Linked DNA regions of Homo sapiens. The protein of the gene in region 1 purifies or fractionates together with the protein of each later gene. This does not show direct contact. Each region holds a gene or a part of one and is shown in the gene's direction. Other genes may lie near its edges.

Region 1 (7,836 bases):
TGCTAAGAAAAACACCATTAAGCAAAAAACTAACCTCTGAAGAGATTGAAGCAAAGCTTAAAGAAGTGGTACATGAATTTTTTGTATTTCAACTTTTAAAATTACCTTACTTTGAATTTGTGTTTTGCTTATAGGACTTTCTGTGATAGTATCAATTTAAAAATGTATTATCTGTAAAGAACTAATGTTACGAAGATTTGCAGTGCAAGACCTCTCGGGGGGTTATTTTTCTTTCTGAAAATTTTTATTCTACAGCTTCTTGAAAGGAATACCATTTAATTCCTCTCCTTTCTTGGTTATTTTTAGGAATTAAGTTCTAGCTACTAATACAGGACATATCATTCCAACAAATTTGGAATGATAGTTGACAGATTGGGAGTTTTTCACTCCTTCCTTTTTGTGAGAGTCCAAGATAGATAGCAAGGGATGAATGAGAGTAGATTAAGTAGTTGTTTTCATCTTTGTCACCCAGTTGTTAGTGTAATGATGTAAGCCCAGGAATACAAACAAGAAAAAAAATAAGATATTGGGCAAGTGTAGACAGAAAGGCCGAGAGAGATGACTAGTGTCAGAAAAAAAAGTGAAAAAGATAAGTAGAAGAGACACTTTGCAGGGGGACATTGATTTTTTTCATGTAAAGTATATCGTTGCATTTTATACAAAATCTAAAAAACTGATATTTAGACCGACTAACAATTTGGTTATAGTCTCAGTTTTGCTAACCTTTAAAGTAGTGTATCAGGACTGGGTATTTCTCAGAGATGGATAATTCAGTAGGCCTCTATCTGTATATGCTCATAAAAGTTTCTGACTTGTGACAATTGGTGGATATAGAAAGGTCTAAATTCGAGAGATGGTAAGAGTATATAAGAACTGAAAGTAACTTTATTTTTCATACAGCTCTTGGTACTTAAGTATGTACAGAACAAAGATGTTTTTATGAGGTATCATAAAGCTCATTTGACACGACGTCTTATATTAGACATCTCTGCCGATAGTGAAATTGAAGAAAACATGGTAGAGTGGCTAAGAGTAAGTAAATTTTTTTAAATATTTGGTTTTCTAATACATTACATCATTTATATGTGTGCTTAAGTAATACATTTTGGAGATATTGTTAATGTCAAAGAAGTAGGAAACATTTTATAAGAATATAGCGTCAGTTAGGCCGGGCGCACTGGCTCATACCTGTAATCCCAGCACTTTGGGAGGCCGAGGCAGGTGGATCACCTGAAGTCAGGAGTTCAAGACTAGCCTGACCAACATGGCAAAACCGCGTCTCTACTAAAAATACAAAAATTAGCTGGATGTGCTGGTGCACTCCGGTAATTCCAGCTGCTTGGGAGGCTGAGGCAAGAGAATCACTTGAACCCAGGAGGTGGAGGTTGCAGTGAGCCAAGATCGTGCCATTGCACTCCAGCCTGGGTAACAGAGTGGGACTCCATTTCAAAAAAAAAAGAATATACCATCAATTATATAAAATAAAGTGATATCTAATAAATGTTCTTAATACTTTCAGTAAAGTATCTTTGTTCTTGAGTTGTTTCTACTGTTTCACTCCCATTTGTACCTCAACTCTCATTTAAACTGACCTTATTAATAAATAGACTACAGGGGCTGGGCACGGTGGCTCACACCTATAATCCCAGCACTTTGGGAGGCCAAGGCAGGTGGATCACAAGGTCAGGAGATCGAGACCATCCTGGCTAACACAGTGAAACCCAGTCTCTATTAAAAATACAAAAAAATTAACGAGGCGTGGTGGTGGGGGGCCTGTAGTCCCAGCTACTTGGGAGGCTGAGGCAGGAGAATGGCATGAACCCTGGGGGGCGGAGCTTGCAGTGAGCTGAAATCGAGCCACTGAACTCCAGCCTGGGTGACAGAGCAAGACTCCATCTCAAGAAAAATAAAATAAATAAATAGACTGCAGGACAAATTATTATATCTTTAAGGTATTTTCAGTACTAAATGCTTAACTTTAGAGATGTTTATAAATGATAACAATAAATACTTCTGTATAGCAAAAAGAACCTTTAAATGATGGCCTATTTAGGGTAATCAATGCTGATTATAACTAAATTCCCATATAAAGTATTTTGAGTTCTTTTTTTGTTTTAATTATTAAAGTAAATATCTTTAATTTCTGTGTATGTATATAACTCTCTCCACATATATATGGAGAGAGAGAGAGTGCGAGCAAGCACACACGAGAGAGACCTACAGATATTTTAACTTATAGCTAGCCCTTCGCATGGAACTTTAGGATAGTAAAAATTACTGTGCTAACTGAAACTGCTTAGTAGGAAAAAGAATGATTATTCTGTGACTTTTTAAAACTATTGTCAAAAGACTCAAAACTCTTACTGTCACTTATAAGTATATAGGAAAAAGGGGAAAATAGCAAAACTAATACATATTTACTACGAGAAACCTTTAGAATTAAATTTTCTTTCTTTCTTTCTTTTTTTCTTTTTTTTGGAGATGTAGTCTTGCTGTGTTACCCAGGCTGGATTGCAGTGGTGCAATCTTGACTCACTGAAACCTCTGTCTCCCAGATTCAAGCAATTCTCCTGTCTCAGCCTCCTAAGTAGCTGGGACTACAGGTTTGTGCCATGACGCCTGGCTAATTTTTGTATTTTTAGTAGAGACACGGTTTTGCATGTTGGCCAGGCTGGTCTTGAAATCCTGGTCTTAAGTGATCCGCCTGCCTCGGCCTCCCAAAGTACTGAGATTACAGGCGTGAGCCACCACACCCGGCCTATGTTATTTCTTTGTTAAAAAAAAAATATCAAGACCCAACAGTAAAATGACAAACAAGGCTAGGCATGGTGGCTCACACCTGTAATCCCAGCACTTTGGGAGGCTGAGGAGGGCAGATGGCTTGTGCTCAGAGTTTGAGATGAGCCTGGGCAACGTGGTGAAACCCCATCTCTACAAAAATTTAAAAAATTAGCTGGGTGTGATGGCATGCACCTTAGTCCCAGCTGCTTGGGAGGCTGAGGTGGGAGGATCGCCTGAGCCTGTGAGGTGGAGGTTGCATTGAACAGAGATCTTACCACTGTACTCCTGCCTGAGCAACAGAGTCAGATCCTGTCTCTCTCACTCACACACACACACACACACACACACACACACACACACGACAAATAATTAAAAGCAGGCAAAGGATTCGAATTGACATCTCTTCACAGAAGATAGACAGATGGCCAATAAGTGCATGCAAAGATACTCAACATCATTAGTCATTAGTGAAATGCAAGTGAAATGCTCAACATGTTGGCTCCTGCTTATCCCAAATATTTTGAAAGGCTGAGGTGGGAGGATTGCATGAAGCCAGGAGTTAGAAACTACCCTGGGCAAAATAACAATACTCCATGTCTACAAAAAATACAGAAATCAGCTAGGCATGGTGATGTGTGCCTGTGGTTCTAGCTACTCAGGAGGCTGAGATGGGATGATTGCTTGAGCCCAGAAGTTCAAAGTTGTAATGAGCTGAGATTGTGCCACTGCACTGCAGCCTGGGCAACAGAGTGAGACCCTTTCTCAAAAACAAAAAAAACACAAAGAGATACTACTTTATTCCCACTAGGGTAGCTAAAATAAAGACAGATGATAACAAATGCTAGTAAGGAAGAGGAGAAATTGGAACCTTCGTAAGTTGCTAGTGGAGACATAAGATGGTGCAGACACTTTGGAAAACTGTTGGGCAGTTCCTTAAAATGTTGAACGTAGAGCTGACCCAGCAATTTCACTCTTAGGTAATTCATTTGAAGAGAAATGAAAACATGTTTCATGTAAAAACTTGTAAACAAATGTTCATGGCAAGATTACTAATAATAGTCAAAAAGTGGAAACAACCCAAAATGTCAGTGAGCTAATGAATAAAATGTGATTTATCCATACAATGGAATATTTTTTGTGATAAAAAGGAATAAACTAATAATACATGCTGCAATATTAGGTGAACTTTGAAAACATAATGCTGAGTGAAAGAAGCCAATCCCAAAGACCATATCGTATGATTCCACTAATGTGAAGTGTCCAGAATAGGCAAATCCACAAATTCCAGGAGTTGGGGCCAGGAGGGGAAATGACGAGTGACTGTAAATAGTATGGGGTTTCTTTTTGGGGTGATGAAAATGTTCTAAAATTAGATAGTGGTGATGGTTGCACAGTTCTGTAGATATACTAAACTTCATTACACTGTATATTTTATTTTTATTTTTATTTTTTATATTTTTTTGAGACAGAGTCTCACTTTGTTGCCCAGGCTGGAGTGCAGTGGTGCGATCTTGGCTCACTGCAACTTCTGCCACCCAGGTTCAAGCGATTTTCCTGCCTCAGCCTCCTGAGTAGCTGGGATTACAGGCGCATGCCACCATGCCCAGCTAATTTTTGTATTTTTAGCAGAGATGGGTTTCACCATGTTAGCCAGGCTGGTCTTGAACTCCTGACCTCAGGTGATCCACCCGCCTCAGCCTCCCAAAGTGCTGGGATTACAGGCATGAGCCCAGCCAAATTGTATACTTTAAAATAGTAGATTTTATGGTAGATAAATTATCTGACACAGTAAAGCTGTTAATAAAGAGTAGTTTGAATAGCTTTTGCCTTCTTGTGTAACTTGACAGAGTAAGCATCTTTTCTTTGCCTTGGAGAGTTGTCACACCCCCTGTAATTTGGATGATCTTCTAGCATTTTATCTTTTGGGCTGTCAGTGTCATGAAATACTGAGAATTCCTTTATAGCATTTTTGCCAGGATCACTTCTTCTAGGGTATCTTATCTTTTTTGTCACTCACCACTTTTATCTTTTATGTTGGTAATTTGCTTTCACTAAGTTCCTCAACACTGGCATTGTCAGCCTTACTACCACAGTCAGCTTTCTTCTATAACTCCATTTATGTTCTATTTTATTTTCATTTCCAGCATTATCACTTTTCATTTCCTGTTTACTTTTATATCTTTGCCAATTATCTTGTTTGATTATTCTTTTTTGTAAGTAGTCATGTGGGTTTATTACTGGAAGACAAGGATGCAATGAAACTGCATACTTTGCTGTCTGCAGTTTAACTGAATAAACAAATGACTAATAGGTTGTGTTTACATTTTTTAAAAATTTATTTATTTAATTTTTTCAAGCAACAGGATCTTCTGTTGCCCAGGCTGGAGCGCAGTGACACAATCAGAGCTTAAACTCCTGGGCTCAAGCAATCCACCCACCTCAGCCTTCCGAGTAGCTGGGACTATCTCGGCAGTATGCCGCCATATCCTGCTAACTTTTAAAATTTTTTTGTAGTGATGGGGGTGTCACTGTGTTGCCCAGGCTGGTCTTAAAATCCTGGCTTCAAGTGATCCTCCTGCTTCAGCCTCCCAAAGTGCTAGGATTACACACCATGCCAACTAATAGATTTTGAAAGAAGTATTGTGGTTAGTCATTGTTACTTTTGTCATGATTTGTGGATCAAAGAGCTAGAAATAAAGTTTTTACTTCATGCAGTTAAATTTATTATATAGTGTCAACTGAAAGTTGAGCTTTGTTCTTGGGGAATTGGTATTATTTAACTGTACTGTGGTAACTGAAATTCATACATACTAAAAATGCGCAAAGCAGGGACCCCTTGTAATACCGTATTTTGTTTCTAAGTAGCAAATTTCATAGGTATTAGACAATAAAATTCTAATAAATGAGAAAAATTTTGTATTAAAACATTTAAGACTTAGTTTTTCTATTAAAATTTTTCCCAGTAATATATCAGATTATGTATTTATTACCTCTTCCTTCTTTGGTTTATATTTATAGGAAGTTGGTATGCCAGCGGATTATGTAAACAAGCTTGCTAGAATGTTTCAGGACATAAAAGTATCTGAAGATTTGAACCAAGCTTTTAAGGAAATGCACAAAAATAATAAATTGGCATTACCAGGTATTATTTTATAATTACATGTATATATTTTTTAAACTTAGAAGAATATCTTTGTTTTCCAGTAAATTAAAAATAAACCTCAGCAGTAATAGATCGAAAGATGTTATGAAGTCCATTTCCGTGGAGACAGCTATCAAAGCAGTGTGTTAGATTTACAGATCTTTATTTCAAAACAAAAGGACACTTTTAACAAAATCTTTATAGTCTTATTGATTTTTCACCCAAAGTTACCCTGTATTTATTTTGAATTTTATCCATTGTTAATTTACTTTATATTCCTGATATTCTTCTCTATAGCTGATTCAGTTAATATAAAAATTCTGAATGCTGGCGCCTGGTCAAGAAGTTCTGAGAAAGTCTTTGTCTCACTTCCTACTGAACTGGAGGACTTGATACCGGAAGTAGAAGAATTCTACAAAAAAAATCATAGTGGTAGAAAATTACATTGGCATCATCTCATGTCAAATGGAATTGTAAGTAGATAGTGTGTTAGTTATTTCAGCTTTCAGTTTGGATGAAAGTAGCAGGACTCCGCAGAATTGCTTAAACAAAATAGATTTTTGCCTCTCTCACATGTAAAAGTTTGAGCAGAAATAGTGAATTTTTTTCATGAAGTTGATAGGGACATAGGCTTCTGGTTATACCATCATACTTAAGATACTGCCGTTGTCTACAGAATTCAACATGATCCCAACTATCTCAGTATTCCTGGCAACAGAAAGCAAAAGGTGAGGGTAGCTTACACCTTTCATTAGGGACAACTTCTAGAAGTTTCCTCTGTCATTTTCCATTTGCATCCGCCAGTACTCAGTCACTTGGCCACATTTTGTTACATGGAAAGCTGGGAGATGAGCGTGTATTCTGGGCAGTCATTAACGTCTTCTAAAATGTTTATTACTGTGAAAGAGTGGATACTGGAAGACAGCAACCTTTTTCATATATAAATTCATGTCATAGATATTAAGAGAGAATCATCATGAGATTCTTTATTAAAAATCTGTTTTATCTATTATAGATAACATTTAAGAATGAAGTTGGTCAATATGATTTGGAGGTAACCACGTTTCAGCTCGCTGTATTGTTTGCATGGAACCAAAGACCCAGAGAGAAAATCAGCTTTGAAAATCTTAAGCTTGCAACTGAACTCCCTGATGCTGAACTTAGGAGGACTTTATGGGTTGGTTTATGTTTTTTTGTTTTTAAGACTGTATCCTCTCATGTAGCAGGAAATATATGATTGGCTTGTAATATATTAGTAAATTCATAACAGTTTCAGAATGTCTTATCAAGAAAAATAGAGGCCGGGCACAGTGGATCACGCCTGTAATCCCAGCACTTTGGAAGGCCGAGGTGGGCAGATCACTTGAGGTCAGGAGTTCGAGACCAGCCTAGCCAACATAGTGAAACCCCATCTCTACTAAAAATACAAAAATTAGCTGGGCGTGGTGGTGGGCGCCTGTAATCCCAGCTACTTGGGAGGCTGAGGCAGGAGAATCGCTTGAATTCAGGAGGTAGAGGTTGCAGTGAGCCAAGATTGCGCCACTACACTCCAGCCCAGGCAACAGAGTGAGAACTCCGTCTGAAAAAAAAAAAAAATTATGCACACACACACACACACGAGATATTTATGGAAAAAATAAATTGCAAATAGGCAAGTTACCAAGGCAGAGAAAAGTGCTTCAAAAAAAAGGAGAGGCTGGGGCAGTGGCTCATGGCTGTAATCCCAGCACTTTGGGAGGCCAAGGTGGGAGAAGAGGATTGCTTGAACTCAGGAGTTTGAGACTAGCTAGGCAACATAGTGCAATCCCATCTCTAAAAAAAAAAAAAAAAAACAAATTAGCCAGCTTGGTGGCTGTATCCCCAGCTACTTGGAAGGCTGAGGTGGGAAGATTGCTTGAGCCCAGGAGGATGCA
Region 2 (7,836 bases), on another chromosome or scaffold:
AACATTAAACAGTTACAGATAATGTAATAAAGGTTTAACTTAAAAATTTTTTTTCAAAGCACTTTATTACAAACTTTGTGCTAGGTTTATAAAATTGTACCAGTATTTAATCTGAGCACTTAAATCATTTTATTAAAGTGCCAAAGGCAATTTGATATACCTGTTATCCAGCAAAGAAACACAAGGCAATTATTAGTAAATTTTAACAGATTAATGCATTTATTTGGTAGGTTTTATAATGGCTCTATTTCTTGAGTTTGTATATATTTGAGAATTATGTTATAAATATGTTATTATTTCATTGTCTTTGCTATCTATTTGAACCAATTTTTTAGTAATTGTTACCGCTCTTTTACTTTTTTTTTTGTTCCTTTGAGACTGAGTCTCGCTCCGTCGTCCAGGCTGGAGTGCAGTAGCGCAGTCTCAGCTTACTGCAACCTCCACCTCTCGGGATCAAGCAGTTCTCCTGCCTCACCCTCCCGAGTAGCTGGGATTACAGGTTCGTGCCACCACACCTGGCTGATTTTTTGTATTTTTAGTACAGATGGGGGGTTTCACCATGTTAGCCAAGCTGGTCTGGAACTCCTGACCTCAGGTGATTCACCCTCCTCGGCCTCCCAAAGTGCTGGGATTACAGGCGTGAGCCACTGCCCCCGGCCTACTCTTTTTTTTTTTTTAGACAGAGTCTTGCTCTATCACCCAAGCTGGAGTGCGGTTGTGAAATCTTGGCTTTCTGCAACCTCTGCCTCCTGGGCTCAAGCAATTCTCCCACCTCAGCCTGGTACTACAGGTGCATGCCACCACACTCGCTAATTTTTTAAATTTTTTGTAGAGATGAGGTCCCCTATCTATCCCAGGCTGGTCTCAAACTCATGGGCTCAAGTGATCCATCCACCTTGGCCTACCAAAGTGTTGGGATTACCAGTGTGCCTGTCCTATTACCACTATACACAAGGAGTTCCATGATTGTGGTCAAGGTAGAAGAAAAATATAGAGTAACCTTAAAATACAGTCTAGGCTGGGCACGGTGGCTCATGCGTGTAATCCCAGCACTTTGGGAGGCCGAGGTGGGCAGATCACCTGAGGTCAGGAGTTCAAGACCAGCCTGGCCAACATGGTGAAACTCCGTCTCTGCTAAAATATACAAAAGTTAGCTGGGCGTGGTGGTGGGCATCATGATGGTGCATACCTGTAATCTAAGCTACTCGGGAGGCTGAGGCAGGGAGAATTGCTTGAACCCGGGAGGCAGAGGTTGTAGTGAGCGGAGATCATGCCACTGCACTCCAGCCTGGGCAACAGAGCAAGCCTCCGTCTCAGAAAAAAAAAAAAAAAAAAAAAAAGTCACGTATGAAAAATTTAAGTCTTGCTTATGCTTGCTAAGGGAGAGCTTAATTTTAGTCTCATTTACTAGATGTTCTTGAAATTGAATGCAAGGGCTGTTCCTCGTATACAAGTTACATAAATATTCTCCATAGAGACTTTTAAGTTGAATTTTAAAACTTGCTTCCCTTATTTGTGAACTTAGCATTTTTTTCCTCCTAAAAATGCTTGTAAAATGTTTTTAAAATGCTTTAAAAATGTTTTCAAAGATAGATGTGGTTAAACAGGAATCCAAGTTAAAAAAAAAGTGTGCCTGATGCAGTGGGTCATGCCTTAATCTCACCGCTTTGGGAAACCAAGGTGGGAGGATCGTTTGAGGCCAGGAGCTGGAGACCAGCCTGGGTAACATAGCAAGACCCTGTCTATAAAAAATTGTTTTTTTGCCGGGTGCGGTGGCTCACACCTCTAATCTGAGCACTTTGGGAGGCCGAGGCGGGCGGGTCACAAGGTCAGTAGTTCGAGACCAGCCTGGCCAACATGGTGAAACCCCGTCTCTACTAAAAATACAAAAAATAATAATAATAATTAGCCAGGCATGGTGGTGCACGCCTGTAATCCCAGCTACTCGGGAGGCTGAGGCAGGAGAATTGCTTGAACCCAGGAGGCGGAGGTTACAGTGAGCCAAGATCAAGCCACTGCACTCCAGCCTGGGCGACAGAGCAAGACTGTCTTAAAAGGAAAAAAAAAAGTTTGTTTTTTGTTTTTGTTTTTTTCAGTTAGCCAAGTGTGGGGGCATGTGCCCGTAGTCCCTGCTACAGCTACTCAGGAGGTTGAGGCAGGAGGATCATTTAAGCCTACGAGTTTGCCTCTGCACTCCAGCCTTGGCAACAGAGCAAGACCCTGTCTAAAAAATTAAGCAGGCAGGGGTTGCAAATTCAGAGGCCAGGCATATAAAGAACCCTGGTAAAAGGAACAAATAAGGCTGTAGGTTTGGGAAAATTGTAAGGAAACCTGGAGCAGCATGCTCTTTCTGAAATCATTTGTATGTTAAAGGTATCTGCAGGCATTTGAGGGTCACCAAGTTTGTGAATTTTGTATTAAGAAAGTTATGTGGCTCACATCTGTAATCCCAGTACTTTGGGAGGCTGAAGGTGGGAGGATCACTTGAGCCCAGGAGTTTGAGACCAGCCTGGGCAACAAAAGGAACACCTACCTTTACAAAAATAAAAACATTAACCGGGTGTAGTGGTGCATGTCTGTGGTCCCAGCTACTTGGGAGGCTGAGGCAGGAGGATCGCCTGAGCCTGGGAGTTCAAGGCTACAGTGCGCAGTTATTGTGCTACTGCGCTCCAGCCTGCATGACAGAGCAAGACCTTGACTCAAAAAAACAAAGTTATGTGACGGCTAGTAAAGTTAATGTCATCTTATGCTGTGCTAATATGGGGTGGGTGGGGGACTCTGCTGCTTTGATTAAACCACACCTGAAGTATTGTGGTTAGTTCTGGGTGCCACTTTTATGAGGGCCAGTACTAACTAGAATTTATCCAGAAAAGTATGATGAAGTTAGGATGGGAAATGGACTTGAAACCATGTGATCTAAGGTATGATTGAAAGGATAGAGATCTCTTAGCCTGGTAAAAAAGATTCATTGATGGCTATCTTCAATATATAAATGCCATATGAGGATAGCAGCAGGCTTATTCTCTTAGGTCAGAATCAGTACTGAGTGGGTAGAGTGGTAGGAGGAAGATTTTGAGTCATTAAAAACGGTCTCAGTTGCACCAAAATAGTGTAAGCCTTATTATGAATATCATAGAAAAGTAGGTCTCAGGCTTTTTGTTTTTGCTTTCTAAACCACACCTATTTGTTAAGGTGTCAAGAATTGGGCAGATAACATATTTAAATCACTTTAGAATGGGAGCATAAATGTGTGCTTTCATATTCATTCCGTAAATATTTACTGAGCACCTGTCATATGCCAGGTGCTATACTAGCTGTTGATGGAGCATACATTCAGGCTGAAGAAGTACATTTTGGGGGTGGGTGTGTCCATGTCCAGGTTCTCTAGCTATATCAGTGTAAGGGGTTCTTATGTGAACAGCAATAACATAGAATATATTAAAGCTTAGGTGTTGGAAAGTTTAAACCAGAAATACATAAAAATATATTATTATACAGTGTACAATTGACCAGACAACTGACCACAAAATAGGTAATAGGGAAAATTAAGACCAACCCAAAATAGGTGATACACTGATAAAGAGGCTCCTTTCCCCAAATTGAGGAAATTGTAGCTGAGTTTGCATGCATGCATTGCAGTATGAGCTTGTTGATCATGCTTTTTGTTAAATATGGAAGTAATATTCTCCATATACTCTGGTAATATGCCAATTTTTGTTAGGAATACAAAATTTGAGTAATCTGAATTTAAAATATATGACATTGTCCATTTTTTGTCCTTAAAAACCAAAATAATTCCATTTTTGAGTCAGTTTGAGGCCTATTAGGAAGACTCTTAAGGACCAGTATTTGAGAATCACAAATATAATGCATTTTGGTTTTTTTTGTTTTTTTTTTTTTATGACAGTCTTGCTCTGTCACCCAGGCTGGAGTGCAGTGATGCAGTCTTGGCTCACTGCAGTCTCCACCTCCAAGATTCAAACAGTTCTTATGCTTCAGCCTTCCAAGAAGCTGGGATTACAGACACACTCCAGCATACCACCATGCCCGGCTATAATGCATTTTCTTTTATTTTAGCTTATTTTTTTTTTGAGATGGAGTCTCACTCTGTCGCCCAGGCTGGGGTGCAGTGGCACTTTCTTGGCTTACTGCAACTTCCGCCTCCTGGGTTCAGGCAATTCTCCTGCTTCATCCTGGGATTACAGGCGCCCACCACCACGCCCAGCTAATTTTTGTATTTTTAGTAGAGACAGGGTTTCAAACCATGTTGGCCAGGCTGGTCTCAAACTCCAGACCTCAAGTGATCCGCTTGTCTTGGCCTCCCAGAATGTTGGGATTACAGGTGTGAGCAACCACACGCGGCCTATAATGCCTTTTTAAAGCACTGGTTTGGAGGGTTGGACTAGACAACCTGTAAGTCTCTTCTAGTTCTGAGGGTTTTGTGATTTTTGTGACCTGGGCCTGAAAAGGGTAAAAATACTTGTTTGGATAGTGTATTTTGTAGTGCTTTCCTTTGAGTAATGGTGTAATATTGTATTTTATGGTGAGGTATGGTTTTTGAAAGCTAAGAAACTTAATTTGGAAGATACTTTTCCTGCCAACTAAGTTTAATTTCTTGCATTTTAAATGTTAATAATTTGATGAGAACGTAATACAATGCAAAAGTTAGGACTTTTGTAATTGTTAGGTCTAATTGGTCATTACATTATTATTGACCAGTTTTTTTTACGGAAACTTTCTTAAAAACTCTTGCATTGGGAAATTTTAGGGAAATCACTTTATCAAAACTTGGAGATAGTCATTATCGTTAAGGGGTCTTCATATACTGCATACCCCCCGTTAGAGGATGGAATGCAGAACTCACTATACCCTGTCTGCATAGAAGAGGGAAGAAACTCAATCCCAAAGTAATATGGAAGCAGTCTCACATGTATTGTTGGTTATATATGATATCCAGTATTTTTATTTTTCCTTTTAGTGAGATTACGTACTATAGGTGAACTTTTAGCTCCTGCAGCTCCTTTTGACAAGAAATGTGGTCGTGAAAATTGGACTGTTGCTTTTGCTCCAGATGGTTCATACTTTGCTTGGTCACAAGGACATCGCACAGTAAAGCTTGTTCCGTGGTCCCAGTGCCTTCAGAACTTGTAAGACTGTTACTTTTCTGTATTTTGTATCTGTTTGTGGAATTTACCATTTTCTCTCAGTGTAGGGTAATAAAAACATTTTGATATTTAAGTTTTACTTTATAGATGATGTCGTGAGTTTTAATCATGGGCTGAATATATTTATTGGAAATTTTGTGTAAAGAATTCTTTGGGCCGGGCGCGGCGGCTCAGGCCTATAATCCCAGCACTTTGGGAGGCCAAGGCAGGCAGATCACTTGAGGTCAGGAGTTTGATACCCGCCTGGCCAACATGGTGAAACCCCATCTCTACTGAAAATACAAGAACTAGCTGGGCGTGGTGTGGCACACCTGTAGTCCCAGCTACTCGGGAGGCTGAGGCAGAAGAATTGCTTGAACCCAGGAGCCGGAGGTTGTAGTGAGTCGAGATAGCACCACTGCACTCCAGCCTGGGTGACAGAGCCAAATAATGTCTCAAAAAAAAAAAAAAAAAAAGAATTGTCTGGTGTTATTTATACATTAAGTTTTTCTGTATGTTAAAAGTCAGATTGTGTCTAACAAGTGTATATATATATATAGTGTTGTGCCAGAGTAGGTGACTTCTGTGATGTGAAGCTTTTTGGATTCACTTTGGATTTTACATTTTGTTGGATAACCCTGGTGCATAGTAGTAGAGACAGGGGTTTCACCGTGTTGGCCAGGCTGGTCTCGAACTCCTGACTTTAGGTGATCCACCCTCCTCAGCCTCCCTAAGTGCTGGGATTACAGGCGTGAGCCACCGAGCCTGGCCCTTTGTTGTTGTTGTTGTTGTTTTTGTTTTTAATGGACTTATAGTCCCTCTGTTTGGGGTAAATTGAGTTTGGATGTTTGTTGAAAGTTTTTCTAAAATGTATCATGTGCTATATTGGATCTTTCCCTGTTTTTTTTGTGTCTAGCAGACCTTCATGGTTATAGTCACTAATGTTCTCATTACATATAACTTGAGGTCTGGAACCTATGGGAAACTGATCATTATGGTTTGAGGATTTTTTTCCCCCTTTAAGGCAATTTTCTGATATCAGCTTGACCATATCTTAAGTTACTGGGTTTTTTTGTTTGTTTGTTTGTTTTTTGCTTATTTATACTTGTGTTTTTAGGTTGAAGGAGCACCAGTTGATTCGGTGGTTTTGAGGAAAATTTGGGAGGCAAATAAGTTATAATATAAATTGCTTTATTGTTGAACTTACTACTCAGTCACTGAGAATTTCTATTAATGTCCTTCTCTCGTAGTTCAAATATCAACCTTTCCCTTCCTATCTATAGGATTCTATTGTTATTTGGTGTCATTATAATAATATTGAGGTTATTTTAACAAACACTTGTAATTATTCAATGTCCAGAGGAGTCCAGAGTGAATAATAATACAATTTCCATCTGACTTCCCCCACTCCAGTCTCTTGCATGGCACCAAGAATGTTACCAATTCAAGCAGTTTAAGATTGCCAAGACAAAATAGTGATGGTGGTCAGAAAAATAAGCCTCGTGAACATATTATAGACTGTGGAGATATAGTCTGGAGTCTTGCTTTTGGGTCATCAGTTCCAGAAAAACAGAGTCGCTGTGTAAATATAGAATGGCATCGCTTCAGATTTGGACAAGATCAGCTACTTCTTGCTACAGGGTTGAACAATGGGCGTATCAAAATATGGGATGTATATACAGGTATGGATTCATAGTTTTTAAAGCAAATGTATTATTTTATGATGCAGGGCACTGCTTATAGGCACTGGAATTGGGATTTGAGGATTTCAGCTTACTGAAAAGCAAGAATTGATGGCATAGGTGCGTCTTTATAATAGACCTGAATGTCACCTTCTTCAGCTCATGATTTTAATTTAGGAAAACTATGGAGTTCATATTGCTTCATCACTCTTTAGAGAGTATTACAGTAGGAAAGGGTTTTCCAGGGAATGTTTAGTTAGTTGTCCTTTATAAACTAGTTATTTAGTTAATGACTCACATGTCAAGGTGTTTTCTTTGTTTATGCTTTTTCAATGATTGATAGCTTAGAGGTTTTCGAGGTAAATCAGATTTCAGTAATCATCTCACCTTGGAAAGGTTTAGTGAAAGTTTAGATAGATTGAGAAGTTAAATTCTTTGGGCAACTAGAAATAAATGTGTTGCTTATTGCCTAAAACACTTTCTGGCATATAATATGTACTCAAAAACATAAAGGATTTTTAAAGAAGCATTAAAAGAACATGTACATTAGAACATAACAAGTGATACTAACATAGGTGATAATGAGTCAAAATTTGGGTTCTTGAAAAAAACAAGATGAACACATAGATTGTCTTAGAAAACAAAGCTCTTACATTATTAGTTAAATACATTTTTTTTCACTGGGATCATGTTTGAAAACTAAAGTTGTGGGATAACTTGTATCTTTTGAGGAGCTTAACATTCCTAGGCCAGGGAAATAACAAGCAAAGAAATAATTTGATTTTATATTTTAAAGTTCATGCCTGTAATTCCAGCACTTTGGGAGGCCAAAGCTGGGGGATCACTTGAGCCCAGGAGTTTTAGACCAGCCTGGGCAACATAGTGAGACTCCATCTCTCCAAAAAAAAAAAAAAAAAAAAAAAAAAAAAGGCCAGCCGTGGTGACTTGTAACTGTAGTTCCAACTATTTCGGAGGCTGAGGTAGGGGGATTGCTTGAACCCAGGAGGTCG
Region 3 (8,001 bases), on another chromosome or scaffold:
TCTCCATAAACATGGAATATCTGTCTATGTAAATATTTGATGTCTTTTATGAGAGTTTGGTAGTTTTCCTCATATAGACCTTGTACCTATTTTGTTAGGTTTATGCCTAAGCATCCCATTTTTTGGTGCTATTGTAAACAGTATTGTATTTTTAATTTCAAATTCCAATTGTTAATTGCTGGTATATAGGAAAGCAACTGGCTTTTGTTTATAACCTTACATAGTAGTCCCCCATCTGTGGTTTTGCTTTCCATGGTTTCAGTTACCTGCAGTCAACCACAATTCAAAAACATTAATTGGAAAATTACAGAAATAATTCATAAATTGTAAATCATGTGCTATTCTGAGTAGTGTGATGAAATCTCGTGCCGTCCTGCTCCATGCTACCCAGTACGTGTGCCACCTTTCTGTTCAGCATATCCATGCCATATACACTACCTGCCCATTAATCACTTAGTAGCTAACAGAGAGACCACACTCATGTAACTTTTATTACAATATATTGTTATAGTTGTTCGATTTTATTATTAGTTATTGTTGTTAATCTCTTGCTATGCCTAATTTATAAATTAAACTTTATCATAGATGATCCATATGTAGGAAAAAACATAGTATATATAGGGTTTGATTCCATCCCTGGTTTCAAGCATTCCTATATGTACTATAGAGTTTGGTACATATCCCCAACAGTGTCTTAGAACATATCCCCTAAGGATAAGGGGGGGGACTGCTGTATCCAGCAACCTTGCTGTAGTCAGTTATTAGTTTCTGGAGTTTTATTGGAGATTCTTCAGGGTATAATACACAGTTAATCTTACCACCTGTGCAAAAAGACAGTTTTATTTCTTCCTTCTAAATCTGTAACCCTTATTTTCAAGTCTTATTGCATCAGCTAGGACTTCTATATGATGTTGAACAGAAGTAGTGAGAGGGGACATTCCTGCCTTGTTCCTGATCTTAAGGAGAAAGGGTCCACTTTCTCACCATTAAGTATGATATTAGCTGTTGGTTTTCTGTAGATGTTCTTTATCAAGTTGAGGAAATGCCCCTCTCTCTATTACTAGCTGGGTGAGAATTTTTTTTTTTTTTTTTTTGAGATGGAGTCTCACTCTGTCGCCCAGGCTGGAGTGCAGTGGTGCGATCTCGGCTCACTGCAACCGCCGACTCCCTGGTTTAAACTATTCTCCTGCCTCAGCCTCCCAAGTAGCTGGGATTACAGGCATGTGCCACCATGACCGGCTAATGTTTGTATTTTTAGTGGAGACGGGGTTTCGCCATGTTGGTCAGGATGGTCTCAATCTCCTGACCTCGTGATCCGCCCGCCTCGGCCTCCCAAAGTGCTGGGATGACAGGTGTGAGCCACTGTGCTCAGCCAGCTGGGTGAGAATTTTTAACACGAATGGGTATGGAGTTGCAGTTAGGCATGATGAAAAAAATGTGGAGCTGGATAGTAGTGAGGTTGCACAATAGTGTAAATGTACTTCATGTACACTTAAAAATGGTTCAAATGATAAATGTTTTGTATACTTTACCATAGTAAGAATAGTGTATTTCGAAGACAACAACACAACCTCCCACATGTGGCTCTAGCTACTTGCTCCCCAGATACCCAGCCGCACCCCTGCCTCAGGCCCTTGCATGACCTTCCCTCCGTCCGAGGCTCCTCCTGCAGATACAACACAGATGAGTGGAGAGATGCAAGGGGATAGGCGAGGGGACACTGAAGACATACTCAGAAAGCTCCCCGTGGCTGGGTGTGGGAGAAGCCTGGAGGAGGGTGACAGCAGCAGTTGGATTCCCATCCACCTTCCTGTGCTTACTACTAGCTGGTAAGTACAAGAAGCCAGCGAACCTCTTGCAGTTTCAGTTCCCTCATCTGTAAAATGGAGGTATCAGTGTCGTCAAGCCAAAGGCTGCCAGGAACCTGCCTGTAATTGAATGAGTTGGGATTATCACTCATTGCAGCGAGAGGGATGCAGATCATGGAGAACTGCAAGGCATCTCAGTAAGAGGTGTCGGGAAAAGTTACTAAAGGTTATGGGCTTGAGTTGGGTGATTTTTTTCATGGATTAGATGCTGTCAGGAATTGGGGGAGTGGATGGGGGGAAAGGGTGGTTCTCTGGGCATCTCAGTAGATGTTATCTGTGAGGAGGCCAGGGCAGAGGGAGGCTCAGCTGTAGCTGGTAGAGGAGCGGGGGTCATTGTTACTAACTTGGAGATGATATGTCTTAGATTTTGTGGGTGGCACAGTTACCCTGTTTTTGTTTGTGCTTAGACAAAATTATGACGTGGCCTTGGATCATGATGGTGCTCCTCTACAAAATTATTTATGTCCAACAGGAGACCCCATGGCCTCGATCTGAGTGCCAGGCCAGCTCCTGATGTCACGGTCCACTTTTCTTCTTGGAGGTCATACTAGTACCTATTTCATGGAAATAACCCATGTAGAGTGCTCAGTATATACCCTGTGAAGGGTTATGAATGCTGATGGTAGTGGAAGCTGATGTGGAGGGGAATGGTGGAGACACCTTGGAAAACCAAGCAAGAGTCTGAAGTTGTGGCAGGCCGGGTCTCACTAACGCAGGCCTCCATTACAGCTGTCCCAGCACGGACTGAGTAGCCAGGTTAAACATTAAAAGCTGATTGAGCCAATGCCCTTATACAAAGGTTGGAATGTAACAAAGAGCCCACCAAGAGTTTTGCCTAGGCTCTTCCTGGGCCTTGAAGCATGACAAGATAACGAAGGAACTCTTAACAGGACCCTTTTTAGGATTAAACAAGTTGTATTAGGGATCTGAAGAAACTCCCCAGGCCTCCACAAACAAGTTTATGGGGGTCTAAAGGAATTCCCCATATCATTATGATTTAGCAGGAGACAAGATAAGGGTAATCACCCCAGCACCTAGACCCATTTAGATTAAGTAAACTTACTGAGGCTCCAGAAGAGGGTCTTCAGGACTCAACCTTAGTCATAGATTAAAAGAAGTTAATCACTTATGTCTGTAGATGAATGCACACTTACATGTAGACATACAGCTTAGAAGGTATACGAGCTTTGGAAAACTTTGTAATTTTGAGTTGGTATGGTGATAATTTCCAGGCCTTCTCCTTGTAACCGGTTACAGAAATAAAACCTCTCTTACTCTCCAGCTCATTTGCATCTTGTTATTGGGCCAGGAGAAGTAGTAGCCCGACCCTCAGTTGGGTCCAGGAACAAAGGGAGTGTCTGAAGACAGCAGTGATGTGATCACCTGTTTTAGGAGGACCACTCGCCAGAGCCCAGGGGAATGGTGGGAGGGGTGGGGAGAGGTGAGGGGAGCTGGGACAGGGCAAGGAGGGATGTATGGAGGACGTGTCCCCTGGCAGTAGGAAGAGAGTCAAGGATGACTCCAGGGCTTCTGTAATTTGAAACAGTCACAAATAACCACAAGCTCTCAGGTGGAAGGACACTGAGAGCCCCATGAAGGTCATGAGGTGGTGGGCCACCTCAGGTCCGTGGATCCAGGACCATGGATCAACAAGAGAAGTGAGGTCTCCCTGGGACCACATAACGTGGTGAAGGCACCGGCCTTTGGTTTTCAAACTCTGCTCCTAAGTGGAGCTCCAGGGTCTGGGGAGGAATGCCGAGTTAGGAGGGAGGCGGGAACCGGAGACCCAGGCCCACTCGTCCGCCCCAGCGACGCTGGCACTTGCACATATGAGGCGGCTTGCATGGCTGTGCTTGAAGAAAGGGTTCTGCAGCTACAGCCTATCTGCAAAGCCCCACGCGAAGTTTGGGCAATGGGCTGTGTGAACCCAGAAAATGGGAGACAGGTCTCAGTTAATTTACAAAGTTTATTTTGCCAAGGGTGAGGACGCGCCCGTGACACAGCCTCAGGAAGTCCTGACATGTGCCCAAGGTGGTCGGGGCACAGCTTGGTTTTATACATTTAGGGAGACAGGATACATCCATCGATACATGTAAGAAGCACATCGGTTCGGTCTGGAAAGACGGGACAACTTGAAGCAAAGGCAGGAAGACTCCAAGCGGGGAGGGAGCGTCCAGGCCACAGATAGGTGAGACACCAACGGTTAAATTCTTTTGAGTTTCTCATTTGCCTTTTCAAAGGAGGCAAATCAGATATGTATCTATCTAAGTGAGCAGAGGAGTGACTTTGAATGGAATGGGAAGCAGGCCTGCCCTAAGCAGTTTCCTGCTGGAGTTTTCCTTAGTGATCTTGGGGGCCCAGGATATCTTCCTTTCACAGCTGATTTCACAAAGCCGGCTGGGTAGGAGGGCCCCAGGGCCGGGTGGCCGTCCGCGTGGCAGGGCGGGGGTCCCAGGGCGGCTGTGCTTGGTGCTGGGAGGCCGCCCGAGGGCAGCGCCGGCCCCGAGTCAGCAGCCGCAGGGCACCCTGGAGATGCGGAACGCCCCCAGCCGTGGGTCAGCAAAGGCGTCTCAGGTGACCCTTAGGGAGGGCTTCTGAGGCAGCCCGTGCGGGGTCCGTCCTGGCTGAGCACTGCGCGGACGGCGCGCCCGCGAGACTCGGACCCGGCCTAGGGCTCAGCGAGCTCTCAGCGGGGCGGGCGGACGCAGGCAGCCCAGGGGAGTGGGGCCCGCCCTGCGCCGCCATCACCCCTTTAAGTGCCAGGCCCGCGGCGCATGCGCAGTCAGGCCGTTGTGCGCAGGCGCAGAGGCGGCGGCGGCGGCGGCGGCGGCGGATGTTTACGGCGGCCGAGGTTGGAGCGGCGCTGCTCGGCCGCGGACACACGAGGGACGCGCCCGAGGAGCTGCAGGTGGCAGCCCAGGCGGTCCGAACCCGTCGGCCGGCCGAGCCTGGAGGTAGAGCCGCCGCCGCCGCCGCCGCCCCTCGGTCCGGCCTGCGGCGAGCGGGTGGTGTGTCCCCTCGGCCCCTTCCCTCCTCCTTCCCCACCCCCGGCACCCCTGCGCCCGGAGCTCTCCTCTGGGGGCGTCGCTCCTCCCCACCTCGGGCACCCTCACCTCCCCCCAGCGGCCTCCAGGGCGTCCCGCGTTTCTCTCTCCGAGCGCTCGCGGTTTCCCGTCGGTCTCTCCCGGTGCCCGTTGCTCACTCACACTCTTGGGTCTGGTTAGTCCAGACCTGCAGCTTGTCTTTGACTTCCCAAGTGGGAAACGTTTGCAGTTCCAAGGCAAGCCAAGAGCTAAGGTTTAGAACAAAGTCTGCCTTGGACCCTTTCAGAAGATGACAGGATTTTTTAAAAAAATAATTGCGCCCCCCCGCCCCGTGCCTTGGAGATAGTAAGAATTGGAGCAGAGCACTGGGACTTCAATTCACGCATGGAAAGAGATCTTTGTTAGTTGGAGGAAGGAGAACTTGCCTGAGCTTCGGGCCTTTGTTTTGTTTTTGTGAGAGGGACGTGTCTCCTAAATGAATGTTTGCTCCAGCGTTGCACCTCAAATAAGTCACCTAAATATCCACGCCCTCTTTATCCACCCCCTCTTTACTCGTGTGACTAGAATAGTTTTCATTTTTCTTCTCAAGGGAATGGCTAAACAGCTCCTATCTGGGCGTTTGATAGACTGTCATTCAAGAATGAGTGAAGTTGAGGTGCCTATAAGCAACTCAGAAATTGTTGTGGCCACGCTTGGGGGAAATAGAGCCCTACACTCAGGTGATGAGAGGAGACCTCAGAGGTGACCGATCCAGGGCCTTGCTCCCTGCGCCACCCCAGCTCGTACCTCCAGTGGAACTTGGCTGGGCTTATCAAGAGCTCCTTTCATTCATTGCAACTTCATTTGTTAGAAAGCTTCTCTGTGTATTTAGTAGGCATTGTCTCCAACATGTACCACTGGTCTGGCTTTTGTTAGGCCCATTAATAGTGTACATGTGACAGCCTTTCAAGTATAGGTGCTCCCCGGCTTACGGTGGGGTCGCATCCCAGTAAACACATCGTTAAACCTGAAGTCGAACCATCCGAAGTCGGAGACCATCTGTATTTGAAAAAAGTCCCTTTGCATTGCTTGTAAGAGTTCTGGTTTTCAAGGTGAGAAATCTGTTTGTGTGTTTGTTTGATCATTCTGCCCAAAGGAGATGTGGCTTTGGGTCCTTTTCCCCACTCATCTTCCACAATGAATTACTTTGTCCATATTACCCTAAAGAAGTGACATCCAAGTTGGAATGTGATCTTCCGTATGTCGCCTCCCAAAACCCCACTACCATAGCTTCATGCTTGTGTTGACACAGCCACAATCACAACTCAGGTGTCAGTTCTGAGACCTTCCCATGCCTGTCGCCACTCAGCAAGTGTTCTTCATGTGCCCTGGCAGTTCGCATTGTAAGGAGCAGCCAGGTTGTTATGGACTGTTGCTAGTTACCACAGAGTAGTGAATTATATTAAGGATTAATTACAGCAGACAATGTGCACAGTATCATCGAGTGCAGCGTTCTAAAAATGATTCTACACTTTTACTTTGAAAAATTGGATTTGACCAGATTGTAGAATCTGGGTGAAAATGATAGGATTTGGTTTGGCGAAGAGCTTTGTTGTCGGTGTTTTTGGTGACATCATGACTGATCATATCGATGGTTTTCAGTGCGAGGGAGTGTTAGATTACCAGACAAAGATGGTAATAAATATCAGACCCCACAGCTATTCACATGGATCCTACCAGTGGCAATAGGTATAGATAGGGTTACCCCATCGTCAAAAGGTTACCGGTGTGTTGTGTGGTAAAGAACGTTGCTGTCTTGAGTATTTTTAAAAGCTGCACTGGTGTGGTATTAAAAACACAGGCCTTTTGCCATACAGTCCTGGGTTTGAATGCAGCCCCCTCCTCACAAACTGGCTATGTGATCATGAACAAATTAACCGGCCAGCTCCAATTTGCTTCTTAATGTTGTGAAGTGTAAATGAGGCCATGACTGGCAGGTGGTACCTGGAAAAAGGTGCTTGTTTTTACTAAAAAGCTGTCTGAACTTTCAAATTAAGGCAGAGTTCAAAATAAGTGATAGTTACTTAGTGGAAAATGAAACCTATCCAACATACAGTTTGAGGTTACCTTCTAGAGATGTGGCATTGAGACAATGTTGGAACATTATATACAGGCTTCTGGGTGAAGAGGTGGCTTTGACTGAGGACGGTATGCGATTTTCCAGCTCTTTTCCTAAATAGACCCTTAAGCATCCAAACACATGATTCCGCTTTTAACCACTGACCCAAATTTTAAGATGACTGTGGTAGGCTAGGGTGCAGCCTCAGAACTGAGTGGCTTATCCAGGATTAAAGTTGACCTCATTAGGACTTAATTCCATCTAAGTCTAAGTCAGCTGGCTGTGGACCGTAATCTAACAAGGGCTCCGAAACAATTCAAAAAATTCAAAAAGGGTGTGAAAATTTAATGACTGGACCATCCTATTGATTTGCAAAACCTAATATTCAGCTCTAAAATCTTGAGTGTGAAGATTGAGTGTTCCACCATAAAAATAGAAGAGAATTTGTGTTAAGCTATACCCTTCACACTTTTTGTTCACTTGTAAGAAACTATGTGATTATTTTCATTCCTGGGAAAACCTCCCACCGCTGTCTCCAGTTGTGTACGTGGGTGTGTATGAAATCCGCCCCAGGCCCCTTGTCACCCCACAGTATTTCTTTACGATCCTCATTCTACTGTTAGAAATCCAGAGGAATGTGAGGAGGAAAGCAAGTATAAACTTCATCATAATTATAACAAGTTGTTAAAAAGGTTGTGTTCATTTCAGAAAATGTCTTCATGAGGTCTGGTGGTCTTTTTCCCTGACAATTTGTATCTGGTGTTTTGTAAAGCATTACCATTTTATATGAAGTTAAAGCAGTTACTTTGAAAAAGTTACATGGGGTAAGTATAAAATTGGAAAGGATATTTTTGTAGTTTTAAGAAGAGTAAGACTTCTCCGCGTGAAAAAGTGTTTTCTTGTGAATTAGCTGAAGCTACCCTGTATTTTAATAGTTAGGCTCAGAGGTGACACATGCTGTGCTTTTTCTTCTTGAAGGCAGGTTGGGAGA
Region 4 (7,536 bases), on another chromosome or scaffold:
AGGGATTTCCAAGGGTAACTTTAACTATGTGACATAATTGTAATTTACTTCTCCTCATTTTCTATTCCTTCAAAATGTAAAGCTTGTGACAGTCCAGCCCCTTCAGCCTGGAGTTCCACCTACCAGTCCCCACATGTGCTGTCTCTCACCAAGGTTGCCAGTGACCTCTGACCAAAACAATCTTGTAAGTAATCAAAACTGAATTTTCTACCTTGTTCTATTCTCCTTGACCCTTCTGTTGCTCCACACTCTCTTTGTCCCCATCGCCCATATTTCACTCACTCATTCTCATAGTTCAACTCCTGACTAAAGACTGACACACCTCCCAAATCCCTGTCTCCAGCCCAGGCCTCTCATTCTGCCTCCAGACCTGCCATTTTCTTGTGTGTTCTGGATGGTTCCATTTGCTTGTGGCTCAGACACCTCAAAAACATATCCTAAACTGAACTCACCATCTCCCTCTCCCACCCTCCTGCCCCTGCCCTCAATTACTCCTCTTTCTGTCATCTCCATCTTGATTGGTGGCACCACCTTCCAATCAATTTTTCCAGGCTAGAAACTTCCCTTTCTCTTTTTTTTTTTTTTTTTTTTTTGAGATGGAGTCTTGCTCTGTCGCCCAGGCTGGAGTGCGGTAGCGCCATCTCGGCTCACTGCAGCCTCCACCTCCCTGGTTCAAGCAATTCTCCTGCTTCACCCTCCGAAGTAGCTGGGATTACAGGTGCCCACCACCACACACAGCTAATTTTTGTATTTTTAGTAGAGACAGGGTTTCACCATGTTGGCCAGGCTGGTCTCAAACTCCCAACCTCAGGTGATCCGCCTGCCTCGGCCTCCCAAAGTGCTGGGATTACAGGCGTGAGCCACTGTGCCCAGCCTCAACTCCATATCTAATCAGTCACCAAATCTTGCCGTTTCATCAGTGTTTCTTGAATTATTTTCATCCTTATTTCTACTGTCCTATTTCAGGCTGTTGACACTTGTCACCTGGGCTGCTGGAAATGGTGTCTTTGCTTCCAGTCCTTTTTTTTTTTTTTTTTTGAGACAGAGTTTCACTCTTGTTGCCCAGGCTGGAGTGCAATGGCGTGATCTCGGCTCACCGCAACCTCCACCTCCCAGGTTCAAGCAATTCTCCTGCCTCAACCTCCTGAGTAGCTGGGATTACAGGCATGCTCCACCATGCCCGGCTAATTTTGTATTTTTAGTAGAGACAGGGTTTCTCCATGTTGGCCAGGCTGGTCTCGAACTCCAAACCTCAGGTGATTCGCCCATCTCAGCCTTCCAAAGTGCTGGGATTACAGGTGTGAGCCATCGCGCCCAGCCAACTTCCAGTTCTATTTCCCTTGAAGCTCCTCTATGTTGCTGCCAGGGTGGTTTTTCTAAAATGCAGATCTGGCCAGGCACAGTGGCTCACGCCTGTAATCCCAGTACTTTGGGATGCTGAGGCAGGAGGATCGCTTGACTCAGGAGTTCGAGACCAGCCTGGGCAACAGACTGAGACTCTGTCTCTATTTTAAAAATTAAGAAATAATAATTTGTAAATTAAAAAAATAAAAATAAATTAGCTCGGCATGGCGGTATGCACCTGTAGTCCCAGCTACTCAGGAGGCTGAGGTAGGAGGATCAGCGGAGCTCAGGAGGTTGTGGCTGCCATGAGTCGTGATCACGCTACTCCACTCCAGCCTGGGTGACAAAGTGAGACCCTGGCTCAAAATATATAAATAAATCAAATGCCTATCTGACCATGTTCCTCTCTTCTTCTATCCTACAGTGGCTCCCCATCACTGGCCTGTCCTATGGGAAAACATTTGCATTCCTTAACTCAGCCTAGAAGGCCTCTGTGACTTGCTGTCTACTTATCTGGCCCTTCTCATGCTTCCTTTCTGGCTGTAGCAACCTTGAAGATATCGTACTTCCCCAAACCCACCTGCTGCTTCTTGCTTTTTTTCATGCGGACTCTTCTGTCTGGAATATCTTCTACATGCAGCAACCGTAACCCAACCTCCATACTGCAGAGAAGTGGCTCGTCTCAGGCCAATTCCTGGTCATCCTTTTAGATTCAGCCCAGGCTGGGCGCGGTGGCTCATGCCGGTAACCCCAGCACTTTGGGAGGCCGAGGCGGGCAGATCACGAGGTCAGGAGTTCGAGGCCAGCCTGGGCAACATAGTGAAACCCTGTCTCTACTAAAAATACAAAAATTAGCCAGGCATGGTGGTGCACGCTTGTAGTCCCAGCTACTTGGGAGGCTGAGGCAGGAGAATCACTTGACCCCAGGAGGCAGAGGTGAGCTGAGATCACGCCACTGCACTCCAGCCTAGGCATCAGAGCTTAGACTCCGTCTCAAAAAAAAAAAGAGAAAGATTCAGCCCAGTGTGAAGGTGTGAACCTCTTCTAGGACATGAAAAGATTCAGCCCAGGTGTGAACCTCTTTTGGAGATGCTCCTTTCCTAACTGCTTGAACCCCGGATAGGAGTCCTATTCTTTTTACTCCTATAGTACTTTCTTTATATCTCCATAATTTTATTTACTATTACTACATGATACATTATTTTATAAAAGTCTTTGTAACCTCCTTAAGGATTCACTGCTTAATCTCCAGTGCTTAGCACAAATCATTAAATGCGAACCAGAAACTCTTCCAAATGTGTTACATCTATAACCTCATTGGATTCTCACTACCAACCCCATGCAATAGATACTAATGTGATCTCTGTCTTACAGAGGAAGAAACAGGCACAGGGAGGTTCAGTAATTTGCCCAAGGTCATACACACACTGGCCTTCAGGTATTCATGCCCGGGGAGTCTGGTCCCACAGCTGGCATGTTTGCCATTATATTATATTGCCTCCTTATAGTGTCGGCACTCATTAAGCACATTGACAGCTATGCTTGGTGAGTGACTACTATGTACCCAGCTCTGTGCTACATGCTTTACCTGGATTATTTCAACTGCACAACAACCCTGTGAGGTAACTACCATCATTGCTCCTATTTTACATAACAGAAAACTACAGAAATCTGGGGCTGGGCGTAGTGGCTCATGCCTGAAATCCCAGCACTTTGGGAGACCCTGTCTCTAAAAAAAATTTTTTTTTGGCCGGACGTGGTGGCTCACACCTGTAATCTCAGCACTTTGGGAGGCTAAGGCAGGCAGATCACAAGGTCAGGAGTTCTAGACCAGCCTGGCCAACATGGCAAAACCCTGTGTCTACTAAAAATACAAAAAATAGCTAGGCGTGGTGGCAGGTGCCTGTAATCCCAGCTACTCAGGAGGCTGAGGCAGGAGAATCCCCTGAACCTGGGAGATGGAGGTTACAGAGAGCCGAGATCGTGCCGCTGCACTCCAGCCTGGGCAACAAGAGCAAGACTCTGTCTCGAAAAAAATAAAAATAAAAATAAAAATATTTTTTTAAAAATTAGCTGGGTGTGGTAGCACATGCCTGTAGTCCCAGCTACTTGGGAGGCTGAGGTAGGAGGATCACTTGAGCCCAGGAGGTCAAGGCTGCAGTGGGCTGTGATGGCGCCACTGCACTCTAGCCTTGGTGACAGCAAGACCCTGTCTCAAAAAAAAAAAAAAGAGAAATCGGGCAACTTCCCCAAGATCGCGCAGTTAACTAGTGGCATAGCTTCACTCAAACTCGAAGTCTTAATCAGGACACTCTACCAAATGAGATCAACGGCTCAGTAATGGATTGGCATCCAGTATGAAGACTGGACCAGCAGGGAGAACTATGATGCGTACAGCCTAGAGCCTGAAGCAGATTTCACAGCCTCAGAGGTGGCACAGGCTGACTCACAACCCGGGGCAGAAAGGGACCAGCCCAGAAACAGTGACCCAGAATCACAGGGAAGTAGAAATGGGATTCGGCACAATGAAGCCCCTCCTTGACCCCATGCTCCTTACCCTCAGGGGCGCAGGAGTTAGTCGCTCAGGCGGCTCAAAGGTCTTGACGGTGGAGAACACCATCCCCAGGGATTCCCGACGCGGTGATGCCATCAAAGCGTTAATTCTGAGATGGGCCTGCCCGGGTGCGGACTCTGCCGCAGCAAGAGAAGGGTTAACTGCCCCGGGCCTTCGCCGTGGGGGCGGGGCCTCGGGGAGGGTCACAGCCCGGGACTGAGACCCGAGGTTAACCGCCCGGGGTGGGCTCCACGGGGGCGGGGCATGCTCTCCGCGGCTGCTGCCGGTATAGAGCGGTAACTGCCCAGGAGGGGGCGGGGCCCCACAGGGGCGTGGCCTCGGAGCTGCACGGCCGTGGGCGGCGATGAGAGGGTTAAGCCCCAGAGGGCCCTGGAGGGGCGGGGCCGCGGGACGGGCTCGGCCCAAGGGAGGAGCTGGGGGCGGAAGCGGCCGGCGGTCTGCGCCCTGCGCGCCTCGGCTTCTTTCCGCCCGGCTCCTTCAGAGGCCCGGCGACCTCCAGGGCTGGGAAGTCAACCGAGGTTCGGGGGCAGCGGCGAGGGCTCCGGGCGAGTAAGGGGGATGGTCCATGCTGAGGCCCAAATGGGGCGAACTCGCGAGAGTCTCTGGCGACCTGGATCAGATGGGGCGAGGGCAGATGAAGGGCCCAGGAGCTTTGGGGCAGCGAGGAGGGAGGAGCGGGCCCGTTGGCAAACTTGGGTGAAAGGATGGGGTACCTGGGTGACGAGCCCCCGCCAGGATTCTGCTCTTCACGCCCCTTTTCTCCCAGCTCCCTTCCAGGTCAATCCAAACTGGAGCTCAACTTTCAGAAGAGAAAGACGCCCCAGCAAGCCTCTTTCGGGGAGTCCTCTAGCTCCTCACCTCCATGGGCCAGACAGCTCTGGCAGGGGGCAGCAGCAGCACCCCCACGCCACAGGCCCTGTACCCTGACCTCTCCTGTCCCGAGGGCTTGGAAGAGCTGCTGTCTGCACCCCCTCCTGACCTGGGGGCCCAGCGGCGCCACGGTTGGAACCCCAAAGACTGTTCAGAGAACATCGAGGTCAAGGAAGGAGGGTTGTACTTTGAGCGGCGGCCCGTGGCCCAGAGCACTGATGGGGCCCGGGGTAAGAGGGGCTATTCAAGGGGCCTGCACGCCTGGGAGATCAGCTGGCCCCTAGAGCAGAGGGGCACGCATGCCGTGGTGGGCGTGGCCACGGCCCTCGCCCCGCTGCAGACTGACCACTACGCGGCGCTGCTGGGCAGCAACAGCGAGTCGTGGGGCTGGGACATCGGGCGGGGGAAGCTGTACCATCAGAGCAAGGGGCCCGGAGCCCCCCAGTATCCAGCGGGAACTCAGGGTGAGCAGCTGGAGGTGCCAGAGAGACTGCTGGTGGTTCTGGACATGGAGGAGGGAACTCTGGGCTACGCTATTGGGGGCACCTACCTGGGGCCAGCATTCCGCGGACTGAAGGGCAGGACCCTCTATCCGGCAGTAAGCGCTGTCTGGGGCCAGTGCCAGGTCCGCATCCGCTACCTGGGCGAAAGGAGAGGTGAGGCCTGGGGCAGACGTGGGGAGAACTTTCTGTCCCTGGTGGCAGTGGTTTGGGATGGAAACTCTTCTGACAAGAGCAGAGGGGATGGACCTTCATCCAGCCTGCCTCAACCTCTGTTCAGTGCTGGGAAAGGCTAGGGGTCTTCACAGCTGTTATTTAATTTAACCCAACAGCAATAGAGGTGAAACAGGCTTGAGAAAGCAACTTTCTCAAGTTCTCTTGGCCAGTAAATGGTGAACCTTCAGAATGGAGGGAGGAACTGCAGGGATGAGAGAATTCAGGAGATATCAACCCCTGAGCAAGAGGTGCAAAGCGTTAGGTACTGGGTTTGATGTACAGGTCCAAAAGAAGGATGGGCAGAGCCAGGTACCCAGGCTGTATACCGGATTCCCTGGGCTCTAACCTGTCTCTGTGCCACATACCTACTTCCTTCCTCAGCCACACCTCTGGATGGAGACACTGGGGCCCTGGGCACCAGGGAGGAGAGCAGTGGAGGAGGCAGGGCCTTAGGGTGGGGCAGCAGGGGAGGAGCCTCCCCAGGAACTGACTGGGTCCAGGGCTTGGAGCTGCTCTCTGCAGTTGTGTGGGCTGTAGAGTGGAGGGCCATCCCTCCTCACCTCAGCCCCAGCTCCCAAGCCTCTGGAGTCAAAGCCTGGGCCAGCTCCACCACTGTCAGAGCCACCTTGGCCTGTTGTTTAGAGGGCCTTAGCCAGCTCTTCACCCCCAGCTCTGACTAGGGATGTGTGAAATCTTATCTGGGAGGCAGAACTTCCGGGTATCTCAAATTCCCCTTTCAGCCAGGTGGGCACACTCGAAGCAGGAAAGCAGAAAGGCATCTGAGTAGGACCCCGTAGTTTGAGGACATCTGGCTGGTGGCTGCACCCATACTTACATTCCCCTCCTTCTCTCTCCCAGCGGAGCCACACTCCCTTCTGCACCTGAGCCGCCTGTGTGTGCGCCACAACCTGGGGGATACCCGGCTCGGCCAGGTGTCTGCCCTGCCCTTGCCCCCTGCCATGAAGCGCTACCTGCTCTACCAGTGAGCCCTGTGATACCACAGACTGTGCTGAGGTCTTGCCACCACCCCTCCCCTTGGGGAGGTGGGGAGGCACTGCTGGCCTAGACCAGCTGCTGAAAGCTGGTGAGGCTGAGCCCCTACCCCAACCCAAGCTCTGCGGAAATCAACAGCCCCAGAGCCACTTGGAGGGAGGAAGAAAGGGAGCCGGCGTTCAAGGCTATGACAGTCTGCTACGCAAAACATTTTTTCAAGTAAAAATAGTAAGAGATGTTGTTATAGAAACCTGTTCTTGTTTTTTTTTTTTTCTTGCACAAATGATCATTTATATAGCTGCCTCAAAAAGGAAGATTATCTGGGCAAGTCCAGTGAAGGCAGACAAACCACAAGACCTAGTGCCAGGTTTATTCCCTCACATGGGTGGTTCACATACACAGCACAGAGGCACGGGCACCATGGGAGAGGGCAGCACTCCTGCCTTCTGAGGGGATCTTGGCCTCACGGTGTAAGAAGGGAGAGGATGGTTTCTCTTCTGCCCTCACTAGGGCCTAGGGAACCCAGGAGCAAATCCCACCACGCCTTCCATCTCTCAGCCAAGGAGAAGCCACCTTGGTGACGTTTAGTTCCAACCATTATAGTAAGTGGAGAAGGGATTGGCCTGGTCCCAACCATTACAGGGTGAAGATATAAACAGTAAAGGAAGATACAGTTTGGATGAGGCCACAGGAAGGAGCAGATGACACCATCAGAAGCATATGCAGGGAAAGGGCAGTTACTGGGCTTCTGGGCTGCTTAGTCCCTGGCTTGGCAGGAAGGGTAGGGAAGATGGATGGGGCTCATTGTTTGGCATTGATGATGTCCACGAATTCGGGCTTGAGGGAAGCACCACCCACAAGGAAGCCATCCACATCAGGCTGGCTGGCCAGCTCCTTGCAGGTTGCCCCAGTCACAGAGCCTGGGAAGGGAGCAGAACAAGGGCTTGGTCAAGAATGGGATGAGTCTGCCCCATCCCCACCTCCATGTCCGAGGGCTCAGTCTAGTCCTCAGCCCACTCCACCTCAGCCGGGAACCAA

What was found.
Region 2: the proteins of CUL5 (region 1) and WSB1 purify together in Homo sapiens (affinity purification with mass spectrometry; 5 studies listed by BioGRID and IntAct, with this or other methods). This does not show direct contact.
Region 3: the proteins of CUL5 (region 1) and PCMTD2 purify together in Homo sapiens (affinity purification with mass spectrometry; 5 studies listed by BioGRID and IntAct, with this or other methods). This does not show direct contact.
Region 4: the proteins of CUL5 (region 1) and SPSB2 purify together in Homo sapiens (affinity purification with mass spectrometry; 6 studies listed by BioGRID and IntAct, with this or other methods). This does not show direct contact.

What each region holds. Positions count from the first base shown.
Region 1 is NC_000011.10:108,088,592-108,096,427, forward strand, and holds part of CUL5 (cullin-5), read left to right. Parts: coding exon 1-68; intron 69-900; coding exon 901-1,032; intron 1,033-5,799; coding exon 5,800-5,923; intron 5,924-6,220; coding exon 6,221-6,396; intron 6,397-6,938; coding exon 6,939-7,100; intron 7,101-7,836. UniProt on the Homo sapiens protein: Core component of multiple cullin-5-RING E3 ubiquitin-protein ligase complexes (ECS complexes, also named CRL5 complexes), which mediate the ubiquitination and subsequent proteasomal degradation of target proteins.
Region 2 is NC_000017.11:27,296,810-27,304,645, forward strand, and holds part of WSB1 (WD repeat and SOCS box-containing protein 1), read left to right. Parts: intron 1-377; exon of another isoform or gene 378-499; intron 500-4,978; coding exon 4,979-5,147; intron 5,148-6,557; coding exon 6,558-6,826; intron 6,827-7,836. UniProt on the Homo sapiens protein: Probable substrate-recognition component of a SCF-like ECS (Elongin-Cullin-SOCS-box protein) E3 ubiquitin ligase complex which mediates the ubiquitination and subsequent proteasomal degradation of target proteins.
Region 3 is NC_000020.11:64,251,049-64,259,049, forward strand, and holds the start of PCMTD2 (protein-L-isoaspartate O-methyltransferase domain-containing protein 2), read left to right. Parts: upstream 1-4,699; 5' UTR 4,700-4,822; intron 4,823-8,001. UniProt on the Homo sapiens protein: May act as a substrate recognition component of an ECS (Elongin BC-CUL5-SOCS-box protein) E3 ubiquitin ligase complex which mediates the ubiquitination and subsequent proteasomal degradation of target proteins.
Region 4 is NC_000012.12:6,870,147-6,877,682, reverse strand, and holds SPSB2 (SPRY domain-containing SOCS box protein 2), read left to right. Parts: upstream 1-4,379; 5' UTR 4,380-4,437; exon of another isoform or gene 4,438-4,685; 5' UTR 4,686-4,781; coding exon 4,782-5,445; intron 5,446-6,363; coding exon 6,364-6,491; 3' UTR 6,492-6,748; downstream 6,749-7,536. Other genes in the region: TPI1 (triosephosphate isomerase), read right to left, coding at 7,300-7,418. UniProt on the Homo sapiens protein: Substrate recognition component of a SCF-like ECS (Elongin BC-CUL2/5-SOCS-box protein) E3 ubiquitin-protein ligase complex which mediates the ubiquitination and subsequent proteasomal degradation of target proteins.